Homo sapiens: one gene and its partners. The protein of the gene in region 2 interacts with the protein of the main gene of each other region in a pairwise test. Each region holds a gene or a part of one and is shown on either strand. Other genes may lie near its edges.

Region 1 (3,750 bases), about 23 Mb from region 2:
GGAGGTTGCAGAGAGCTGAAATGGCGCCACTGCACTCCAGCCTGGGTGACAGAGTGAACTTCATCTCAGAAAAACTAAAACAACAACCACAAAAAAGATGGAAGAGGCATTACATTTGTGGGTGGAAGACATGAACAGAAAACATGTGCCAATTGATGGCAACGTGTTGAGCCAGAAAGTATTGAGCCTATACAAAGACTTCAGTGAGGGATTCCCTAAAACGAGTGATACCAAGCCACTTACTGCAAGTAATGGATAGTTACATGAATGTAAGAATAGATTTGGACTGAAAAATATAAAAATCACTGGAGAGGCTGCATCTGTCTCTTCATCTTATCACATAGGCATTTTATCATCATACATCATCTCAAAAAGAAGGGTCAGTACAATAAGATATTTTGAGACAGAAAGACCACATTTACATAACTTTTATTACAGTATAATTGTTCTATCTTATTATTACTTGTTAATCTCCTACTGTGCCTGATCTATAAATTAAGCTTTATCATAGGTATGTATATATAGGAAAAAACATAGTACACATAAGGTTTGGTACTATCCATCGTGTCAGGCATCCACTTGGGGGTCTTGGAAAGTAGCCCCTGCAAATACAACTGTATTTGTTAAATGAATGAATGGATGAGTAAGACATCGTATTCACTTCTTAAAGATCTTAAAATCTAGAGAGGAGAGAAACATTGCTGTAGGAGAGGATAAACAAAGGACTGTGAAATCTCTGGAGAAATTGAAATCAGGAAGGGAAGGGCAAATCGCAAAAGTCAAGCCAGGAGCATTAAGTTAGATTTGTGCTTTGAGATGAAAACCCCTTACAAATCCTAAGTCAGGGAATGCAATGGTTCTAGAGCCAACTCTAAAGAAAATTTCACACATGGGAAATACATCCTACTGGATATCCGGATTAAAAGCGTTCAGTAGAGACTGGTGCAGTGGCTCAGGCCTGTAATTCCAGCACTGTGGGAGACTGAGGCAGGCAGATCGCTTGAGCCGAGGAATTCGAGACCAGCCTGGGCAACATGGCAAAAACCCCATCTCTATTAAAAATACAAAAAATTAGCCAGGCGTGGTGGTACATTCCTGTAATCCCAGGTACTCAGGAGGCGGAGGTGGGAGGATCACCTGAGGCCAGGAGGTAGAGGCTGCAGTGAGCTGTGACCATGCCACTGCACTCCAGCCTGGGCGACAGAGTGAGACCCTGTCTCAAAAAATAAAATAAAATGAGAAATAATAAAATAAAATTAGCTGGGCATGTCGGGAGGCTGAGGTGGAAGGATTGCTTGAGCCCAGGAATTCGAGGTCATAGTGAGCTCTATCACGCCACTGCACTCCAGCCTGGACGACAGAGCAAGACCCCAGCTCTTTAAAAGAAAAGCGTTGAGTAAATACTTGTTGATTAATTCCATTTCTGGAAATAATCGGATTTATGAAAGAGGCCCTGCCCACCTCTTTGATATGGACTTGTACTAATGAACTACAATTCCCAGCATGCGTCAGAATTAGGGCCGTAGAGTTTTTTAAAATATGGACTACAACTCCCGGCATGCCACACCAGGATTCGAGGACCACACGCCTCAGCCAGCCCCGGCAAGGGCCTATCAGGGGTGGGTCGGGGCATCCGAGCGGGTTTGACGGAAGGAGCGGCGGCGACGGAGGAGGAGGATGGAGGCGGTGGTGTTCGTCTTCTCTCTCCTCGATTGTTGCGCGCTCATCTTCCTCTCGGTCTACTTCGTATCCTTGCCTGAGGCAGGCGAACGCCTTGCCGGGGGACACGGCTGAGGGTGGGCCAGTTGGGCACCCGGGCAGGTGTGTGGGACTAGGGAGGCGCCCGGCGGCGGGCGTGGGCTCCCTGGGAGCTGGCCTGGCCGGGGCGGTGGCGCGGGCCCCGGAGCGGGTAGGAGAGGCTGGCTGCCCTACCCGACGGGCCCTGCTGCCCTGCACGCACTTGCCCTGCCTGGGTTGCCGGCCGCCCCTCACTCGGGTCCGAGTGGGCCTCTCCGGGCGCGCCCCGTCTCGGCCTGCCCGCCTGCTCTCCGCTCGTCCCCGCGGCGCCCGGACCAGCCCTGCCTGAGCCACGGCCGCCCTCGGGAGAGAAGCGTCGCTGTTTTTCTGGGAGAGGCCCTGCGCCGTGCTCTTCGTCGGATATTGGGGGTCCCAAGGGCGGTCGCTTGCGACAGTCGGGTGCCGGGATAAGTGCGGGCCATTTGCCTCCTCCTGTTCCCCACGCAACACCCCCGGCACCCGCCCCTTTGTTCTGGCGGGTGTTAGTACTTGCAGGGACCTTTCACATCCAGGAGTTGACTCATTCGCCAAAGGAGCGAAGTTGCTTCCTTCACTGTGCCGTTTTGTAGTGAGTGTTGGAAAGGAGTTGTTTTAACAACTGTCTACAAAGTGATTATTTTGGTTGTCCCCGGTGGTTGCAGATCTGTAAATTCAATAACTACATCTGCTGTAGTTCCCAATCGTTTCTCAGCTTTTAAATTTTTCTATCGATCCATGTTAAAACTTAAGTTGCAGTATTCAAACTGTTTTCCAGAGCAATAAATGGTGGTTGAATTTAGCACTGCAGTAGCCATGTCGGCTACAACTCTTCCCATCTCTTGACAAAGCATCTAGGCTTAGTTGTTGCCCAATGTTGTATTGCACCATCCAGGTTTAAGTAATTAAATATAAGAAAAAACGTATGAGGAACTCCGCATTTCAGCTTCCTTTCTTGGAAATCACATGTACCTGTTTCTGATCGGATTAAACCATTTGTTTGCTAGAGCATGCGGGCTTTAGGATAGTCGTACAGAGTATATGTTCAGTGCAGCTTCATTTTTCATTGTGGACTGGCATCCTGTTGTAGTGGAAAGGGACAAAATTTGGAATCAGATTTCCTGGTCAGCTAGCTCTTTGCTTGCACATTATTTCCCTAAGCCTCAGTTTTCTGATCTTTAAAATAGGAAATGTTTATTTCCTAGATATGCACAATGAGAATGGTGCTGAGCACCCTAGCACAGTGCCTGCCCCATAGCTAATGTTCAGTAAATATTGCTCTGCCTTCGTGTCCCCACCCTCCCCAATTGAGCAGCAGTTTTTACTTTGATGATATCTAACGACAAGATTTCTGAGTTTTAGTAGGTTTGGGGAGCTGATTGAAAGGGCAGCATCACTTGCCTAAGTTTTGATGACCTCTATGCCCCTCTTGTGATATAAGGAACTAGAGCAAGCTTGTCCAACCCACGGCCCACGGGCTGCATGTGGTCCAGGACAGCTTTGAATGTGGCCCAACACAAATTTGTAAACTTTCTTAAAACATTATGATTCTTTTTTGGTGATTTTTTTTTAAGTTCATCAGCTATCATTAGTATTAGTGTATTTTATGTGTGGCCCAAGGCAATTCTTCTTCCAGTGTGGCCCAGGGAAGCCAAAAGATTGGACACCCCTGAACTAGAGCTTATGCTCAGAAATGTAGCTGGGTTTTTTCTTTTTGCAGTTTGGAAAACCAGGCTTGATAATTTTAAATAGCCCTGGTTTACACCAATTTATGCATTTAGAGAAATGGTAGGTGGAATGTTTGACTTAGACATTACATTAAAATACATTCGGGGGGTGTTTTGATGAAATTCAGCATATTCTGTATTTTAGAATAGTTGCACTAACTTAGGGATAGGAGGTGGAAAATGGTCACGGTAGACTTAATATAGGATATAAGAGTTTTCTTGGACTTTGAACTGTGGACAAAATCTACAG
Region 2 (3,750 bases):
GAGTCCTGCCGCTTCACAGGGGGAGAAGTGTCACCAGATTCAATGCAAGGGTTTTGTGAGTGAGAAGGGCAGGGGGTCTGACTTGGAGAAGGTATTTCTCTGAAAGCAACGGCTATTGTGGGAGACGGGAGAAAGCACAGCCAGAAATCAGAATGGCATTTGGGGGTCTGGGTTAGATATTCTGGTGGGTTCTCTTCCCGATGGGACAGAGAAGGAAACCCACTTCCCTTCTGTCTACTTGGTGAATCTGCGGGTCTCCGAGTTGCTGTCTGCTACATCTCATAGCACCTATCTTGGACTGGACAAAATTAGCTCAGGTACCCTGCAGGCTGAGAGGGAACAGCTAGTCACAGGAGCCTGGTTTAGGGGAGTTCAATTGTTCTGAGGTTCCGGGGAAACCGATGGAGGAGGCCTTGGGAGTCCAGGCAGCGCGCGAGGAAATGCGATGCCGGCCCGAGCAGCTTGCTGCCGCCAGAACAGGCGCGTCTGGGGAGCTCAGTCCCCTCCGGGACCTCTGGCCTCCTCTCGATGCTCCGCTGCCGCCCACCTCCAGCGGCCCGGGGCAGCTACCAGGAGGCCGAGGCAGTGTTCGCGGCCTGGGCCCGGCAACGGAACACGGAACTGTCGTCCCTGGAGAGCGAGGAGGCTGAGCTGATCCTTCGCGCCAGGCGGCCGGTGCGCCCGCAGGCCCCGTCCAGCGCCCGGGCTCGGAATGAGCGGTCCAGCAGGAGGTAGATGAGCGGGTTGGCGCAGCTGTTGACGAAGGCCAGGCAGGTGGCAATGGTGAGGCCCCAGCGCAGCGCCAGCAGCAGGGGGCACGGCAGCGGCAGCGCCCCCAGACGCGCCAGGTGGAAGACGGCCCGCAGGGCGCTGAAGGGCAGCCAGGAGCCCACAAACGTGCTCTCGATGGCGAAGATGATGCGCAGCGAGTTCCTCCGGGCCCGACCCACGTGCGGCGGCCGTCGCAGGCGGCGCGAGATGCGGCAGTAGCAGAAGAGGGTGACGACCAGGGGCAGCACGAAGGTCAGCAGCAGCAGCAGCAAGCTGAGGCCCTGGAAGGCGTGGGAGGGCTCCTCGCCGCACTGGCTGTCCTGGCCCCCAGGCAGGGGCTGCAACCCCCGGTAGACCAGGGAGGGCAGGCCGGCCAGCAGCGCCACGGCCCAGACGCCGCAGCACGAGGCCAGCGCGCAGCGCGGGGTGCGCAGTGGCCTCGCCTCGAGCAGCTTCACCACGGCCAGGTAGCGGTCCACGCTCATGCCCGCCAGCAGCAGCGCGCCCGCGCAGCGCGTGCCCGCCAGCGCGAAGCTGCTGAGCTTGCAGAGGCCATCGCCGAACGGCCAGCGGCCGCCTAGCGCCGCCGCCGCGGCCCACAGCGGCAGCGTGAGCACGAAGCCCAGGTCAGCTGCCGCCAGGTGCAGCACGAAGGTATCCACCAGCCGCCGCGGGCCCCGCCGCCCGGCCAGCAGCCACACCACAAAGGCGTTGCCCAGCAGGCCCACGGCGAAGGCCGCCAGGTAGAGCGCGGGGATGTAGACGTAGCCGTAGGGCAGGTCCCCGGCCGGACACAGCTCCAGCTCCTCCAGGCCGTCCAACCCCGAGTAGTCCCAGGGCGCTGACCCCGGGCTGGGGCTCCAGGGCTCTGTGGGGGCCATGGCCTGGCTATGAGGCCTGCGCGGAGTGCAGCCCTGGGCGCAGGCGGCAGCAGCTCTGAGCAGGAGGGGGTTTGCTCTTCACGCCCGGCCCTGCACCTCCCTTCCTGCCACCCAAGCCGGAGGCAAATGGGTGGGCAGGAAAGAGGGGAGGGAGGAGGGGATGGGGTGGGAGGGGCAGGCTTCTGTGAGAGAGATGGTGGCCTCCGATTTGGGGCTGACCCGAGGGGTAAGGGCAGGGACAGGCAAAAGGGGCTTCACATCTAAATCTTGGGAGGAAAAGTCTTCAGGGCTGGGAGACCTGCCCGGCCTCCCAGTAGGAGCGTGGCCCATTCCTCTATTAGTTGCTCAGTTTCTTTGTTCGTGAAATCGGGATACTTGCCCCACTGTCTCAGGGTCGCGTTGCAAGAGGTGGTGGGTGCCCGAGAGCCCTAACCTCTTCTCAGCCTCCACTTCACCCCTTCCCACCTGCACCCACCGGCTGCTGTCTTCTCTGTTTTAGAGGTGAGAAGACAGAGCCCCGGGATTTTATGAGTATGGGGCCTAAGGCACGCCCCACCCCAAATCCACCTGTTCCCTAGGAAAGACTCCACTGCCGGGACACAGCAGATCTGGGTGGGTGGGGGAGCCCGCCCTGGGCAGTCAAGCAGTTGTTAGCGTCCTGAGATGTGGGGCTCATGTCTTCACCCTATGAGTGGCTTCTCTGACCCAGTCAGGTCCTCATGAAGCCACGCGAAAGGGTTTTAAGGCAGCGAGGAAGGGGTGTAGTCAGATCATCCTGCTGGAAAGGGGTGAAACCTGGGATTCACATCTGCCTCTTCCCTGTCTTCTCCTATCCTAAAAAACCTGTCAAGCCAGACACAGATGTAAGCTCAGTTCAAAAGATGACACCTAATGAAACACCAGATTAGTTGTCCTAAATTATGAGTCAGGAGCTTGGAGGCAGCAAGATCCCTTCTGAACTGAGAAACTGAGAGTAAGGGGAGGATTCATAAAGACGAGGGGGAATGAAGTCTGACCCTGAGGAGGCAGTGGGACCTAAGGAGGAGAGGATGGGTGAGGGAAAGCTTGCTCTTTCTCCTGAAGGAGGCATGCAGCCACTTACATCTGAATTCTTCTTAGCAGATATCCCTTCCACAAGATATTGTGGTAGAACTGATGTCACAGTGCCCTCTGAGTCTGTCCCCAGTGTTCCCAGGTATGAGTGGCTGATGTGCCGGGCAACCCGGTGTGGAAAATTTGAGGTGGATTATCAATTTTGTTCGATTAAGACTTGTTAACAATGAACTCCTCCATGAAGCAGGCACTGTTTCAGGCACTGCAAGAGATGCCATTCTTGGCCTTCGCAGTTTGTTGCATAGGCAGGAGAGATGGTTACATAAGCAGAATCTTATGTAATCTTATGCAGGGGCCAAATTGTAGTAAATGTTAAAAACCAAGCCCTCTTAGGGTTTAGTGGAGGGGGAGTGATTATTTTTGACGGGAGGGCTGAATCAGAAAAGGCCTTCGAGGAGATGACACTTGAGATCAGTCCCAGGAAGGAGCTGAAAGTCAAATAAGAGCAGCAGAAAAGAGAAGAAAGGGTCAGACTCGGAGGAGGGAGTAAAGGGAACAAGTATACCAAAATGAGTAGGAATGTGGGCTTTTCAGGGGACAAGCAGTCTGCCAGAGCCCAGGGTAGGAAGGTGGGGGCAGGAGATGAAGCAGGAAAGGATCATGAGGGGATTTGGATTTCAATCTATAGGTCATGGGGAGCCAGGAGGCATCGATCTGTGTTTTGAAAAGATCGCTGGCAGAACTATGGAGAAGGGAGAGGCTCAAGCCAGGGAGACCCCATAGTAGGTTGTAATTATTTGTGTCTGAAATAGATCATGAGCAGTGGGGACAGAAATGGGAGGGTATATTCAAGAGATAATTGTAACATCATAGGTCTCACAAAGAGGAGTCAAAGATAAGCCTGGGGTTTCTCTGCTTAGGGACTATATGGACGCTGTCCCCTTAACTGCCAAGAACACAGAGAGGCACATGTGTGTATGTGTTCAGTTTGATGTTGAAGTGGGGTCATGAAATAATTTATCATCTAACCAGGATGTTTCTGAGA
Region 3 (3,750 bases), on a different chromosome or scaffold from region 2:
TGTACTTTTAGTAGAGATGGGGTTTTTCCATGTTGGTCAGGCTGGTCCTGAACTTCTGACCTCAGGTGATCCACCTGCCTTGGCCTCCCAAAGTGCTGGGATTACAGGTGTGAGCCACCACGCCTGGCCAAGACTGAATATTTTTTGGATTCTATAATGATATTTTAAAAATCTGCTTCAAAAGCTTTTTTTTTGAGATGGAGTCTCACTTTGTTGCCCAGGCTGGAGTGCAGTGGTGCAATCTCGGCTCACTGTGACCTCTGCCTCCCCGGTTTAAGCGATTCTCCTGCCTCAGCCTCCTGAGTAGCTGGGACTACAGACACACGCTACCATGCCCAGCTAATTTTTGTGTTTTTAGTAGAGATGGGGTTTCATCATGTTGGCCAGGCTGGTCTTGAACTCCTGACCTCAGGTGATCCACCCACCTCGGCCCCTCAAAGTGCTGGGATTACAGGTGTGAACCACCGTGCCCAGCCTGGCCAACATGGTGAAACCCCGTCTCTACCAAAAATACAAAAATTAGACGGGTGTGGTGGTACACACCTGTAGTCCCAGCTACTCGGGAGGCTGAGGCAGGAGAATCACTTGAACCCGGGAGGCGGAGGTTGCAGTGAGACAAGATCGAGCCATTGTACTCCAGCCTGGATGAGAAAAGTGAAACTCTGTACCACCCCTGACCTCCCCCACAAAAAAAAAAAGAAAAAAAAAAAGGAGAAATCTTGTTCAAAATAAGTTTTCAATAGCTTTTATTTATATTTATTTATTTATTGAGATGGAGTCTCACTCTGTTGCCCAGGCTGGAGCACAATGGCGTGATCTCAGCTCACTGCAATCTCCACCTCCCAGGTTCAAGTGATTCTCCTGCCTCAGCCTCCCGAGTAGCTGGGATTACAGGCGCCCGCCACCACGCCCAGCTAATTTTTGTATTTTTAGTAGAGATGGGGTTTCACCATGTTGGCCAGGCTGATCTCAAACTCCTGACCTCGTGATCTGCCTGCTTCGGCCTCCCAGTGTGCTGGGATTACAGGCGTGAGCCACCGCGTCCGGCCTTCAATAGCTTTTAATTAAATATGTGAAGTTTTGGCAAGGCACAGTGGCTCACACTTGTAATATCAATTCTTTGGGAGGCAGAGGCAGAAAGGTCATTTGAGGCCAGGAGTTTGATACCAGCCTGGGCAATGTAGCAAGACCCCGTCTCTCCAAAAAATTAAAGAAAAAAAAATTAGCTGGGTGCAGTGGCGTGCCTGTTAGTCCCAGTTACTTGGGAGGCTGAGTTGGGAGGAGTGCTTGAGCCTGGGAGGTTGAGCTGTTATTCCAACACTGCACTCCAGCCTGGATGACAGAGTGAGAGCTGGGATGACAGGGAGAGACTCTATCTGAAAAAAAAAAAAAAAAAAAAAAAAAAAAAATATATATATATATATATATATATATATATATATATGAAGTTTCTTGCCCCTGGGATTTCTTCTAATGGTATGTTAGAGTTCCCCCAACAGCTACAACCAGATTCCAATTTTTTTTTTTTTTTTTTTGGGACAGAGTCTCACTCTGTTGCCCAGGCTGGAGTGCAGTGGTATGATCTCAGCTCACTTCTGAAACCTCTGCCTCCCAGGTTCAAGCAATTCTCATACATCAGCCTCCCAAGTAGCTGGGATTACAGGCATGAACCACCATGCTCAGCTAATATTTTTGTATTTTTAGTAGAGACAGGGTTTCGCCATGTTGGCCAATCTGGTCTCGAACTCCTGACCTCAAGGTGATCCGCCTGCCTTGGCCTCCCAAAGTGCTGGGATTACAGGCATGAGCCACTACGCCTGGCTCAGATTCCAATTTGAGCCCTATGTGAAAATACCAACTCCTTTGCAGCTCCTTCCCCAAATCCCTTACACTCACCATCCATGGAATCCCCTGGCATTTGTGAGGGATACTTAATTTTCCTCCATGGCTTTTCTCTTCTGGAGGATTATATGCTCATCCTGTGCATGGGGCTGCAGGGACTTAGATGCTCCATTTCATCTCTATTTTTACAACATCCTTACCCACCCTGGTGCCAAGCATAGGTCCTTGCTTACCTTGTGACATGAGCAAAGGTTTAGTGAATGAATAAATGAACAAAAAGCCATATTTCCCAATGATAGCTTGGTCCCTGGTACCCAGAATAGGCCTACATGATGCCTTATTGATCACAGCTGACTTTGACTTTCTCCTGAGAGGTGTGGGAGTTACAAAAATGTTTATTTGTCTCACATTTCTAAGAATCACAGTAATAACGCATCTGGTAGAAATCAGCAACTTGAAGGAACACAATATAGACATGGTATTATTTTAATTTTCATTGGAATTCTTATTTGGCTACAGGACAAATAGTTACTTTTAGGCTAGCCGTTCTTTTTTTTTTAATTCTTTTTTTTTTTTTTTTTTTTTTTTGAGACGGATCCTCGCTCTATAGCCCAGGCTACAGTGCAGTGGTGTGATCTTGGCTCACTGCAACCTCCACCTCCCAGGTTCAAGAGATTCTTCTGTCTCAGCCCCCCGAGTAGCTGGGATTACAGGCGTGTGCACCACGCCCAGCTAATTTTTGTATTTTTACTAGAGATGGGGTTTCACCATGTTGGCCAGGCTGGTCTCCTAACTCCTGACCTCAAGTGATTTGCCTGGCTCAGCCTCCCACAGTGCTGGGATTAAAGGCATGAGCCACTACTCCCAGCCTAGGCTAGCCATTCTTAAATGCATGTACATATATCCTTAAAAAGCAAAAAGTAAGGGAAAAAATGGATAGATCTTTTCCCAATAAGTGCTATTCATATTCTAATTTTATGTCCAAAGATCAACCATATTTTCAGATGAGATCGAGCGCATTCAGGGTGGTATGGCTGTAGACATGATCAACCATATTTTCAATGCTCTAGATACCTGACACTTAAGTAGAAAATTAACATCATGCTAATATGAACAAATTGGTCTTTTTCAATACTAGAAATTATCATATTAAAAAATCCTTGCCCCTCAAAATGCAATCTGAGTCAAAATGGCTCAGAGGGAGAATGTCAAGAGGTAGGAAGATCAGTGAGAGTTAAAATAGTGATGGTCTAAAAGGCAGGAAGAAAGAAGTTCTGAGCTGGGATAGAGAAATGATAGTGGGGTAGTAAAATGGGAAAACCGTCCCAGATAAGCCAATTAATGATTACCTTTTCTGAAATTAAACTGATTTTACTTTGAAGTTGTTGGAATTCATTGGTTTCTAGTTTCAGTAACTGGTATTGGTTTTCCACCTTTGCAAATTTTTCTGACTGCTGAAATACAAACCTGGAAAAGAAAAGAAAAATCACTATTCTCCAATTCATATCCATTTAAATCCGAATTTCAAAGGAGAATTATACCCACTTCTGTTAAGAACAACATAAATTCTGGTATGGGTAGCTGTAGGTTTTTTTTTTTTTTTTTTCACACAGGGTCTCACTCTGTCACCCAGGCTGGAATGCAGTGTCACAATCATAGCTCACTGCAGCCTTGAACTCCTGGGCTCAAGTGATCCTCTTACTTCAACCTCCCAAATAGCTAGGACTGTCCATCTCGCTATGTTGCCAAAGGTGGTCTTTAGCCTTTTTTTTTTTTTTTTTGAGATGGAGTCTCACTCTGTCGCCCAGGCTGGAGTGCAGTGGCGCGATCTAGGCTCACTGCAAGCTCCGCCTCCTGGGTTCACGCTATTCTCCTGCCTCAGCCTCCCGAGTAGCTACGACTACAGGC

Evidence for each region.
Region 1: the proteins of GPR25 (region 2) and CNIH4 interact in binary tests that used the Homo sapiens proteins (3 or more experiments, as listed by UniProt).
Region 3: the proteins of GPR25 (region 2) and IKBIP interact in binary tests that used the Homo sapiens proteins (3 or more experiments, as listed by UniProt).

The regions. Positions count from the first base shown.
Region 1 is NC_000001.11:224,355,248-224,358,997, forward strand, and holds the start of CNIH4 (protein cornichon homolog 4), read left to right. Parts: upstream 1-1,631; 5' UTR 1,632-1,677; coding exon 1,678-1,746; exon of another isoform or gene 1,747-1,796; intron 1,797-1,798; exon of another isoform or gene 1,799-1,821; intron 1,822-3,750. UniProt on the Homo sapiens protein: Involved in G protein-coupled receptors (GPCRs) trafficking from the endoplasmic reticulum to the cell surface; it promotes the exit of GPCRs from the early secretory pathway, likely through interaction with the COPII machinery.
Region 2 is NC_000001.11:200,870,940-200,874,689, reverse strand, and holds GPR25 (probable G-protein coupled receptor 25), read right to left. Parts: upstream 1,710-3,750; 5' UTR 1,653-1,709; coding exon 567-1,652; 3' UTR 512-566; downstream 1-511. UniProt on the Homo sapiens protein: Orphan receptor.
Region 3 is NC_000012.12:98,631,105-98,634,854, forward strand, and holds part of IKBIP (inhibitor of nuclear factor kappa-B kinase-interacting protein), read right to left. Parts: intron 3,310-3,750; coding exon 3,192-3,309; intron 1-3,191. UniProt on the Homo sapiens protein: Target of p53/TP53 with pro-apoptotic function.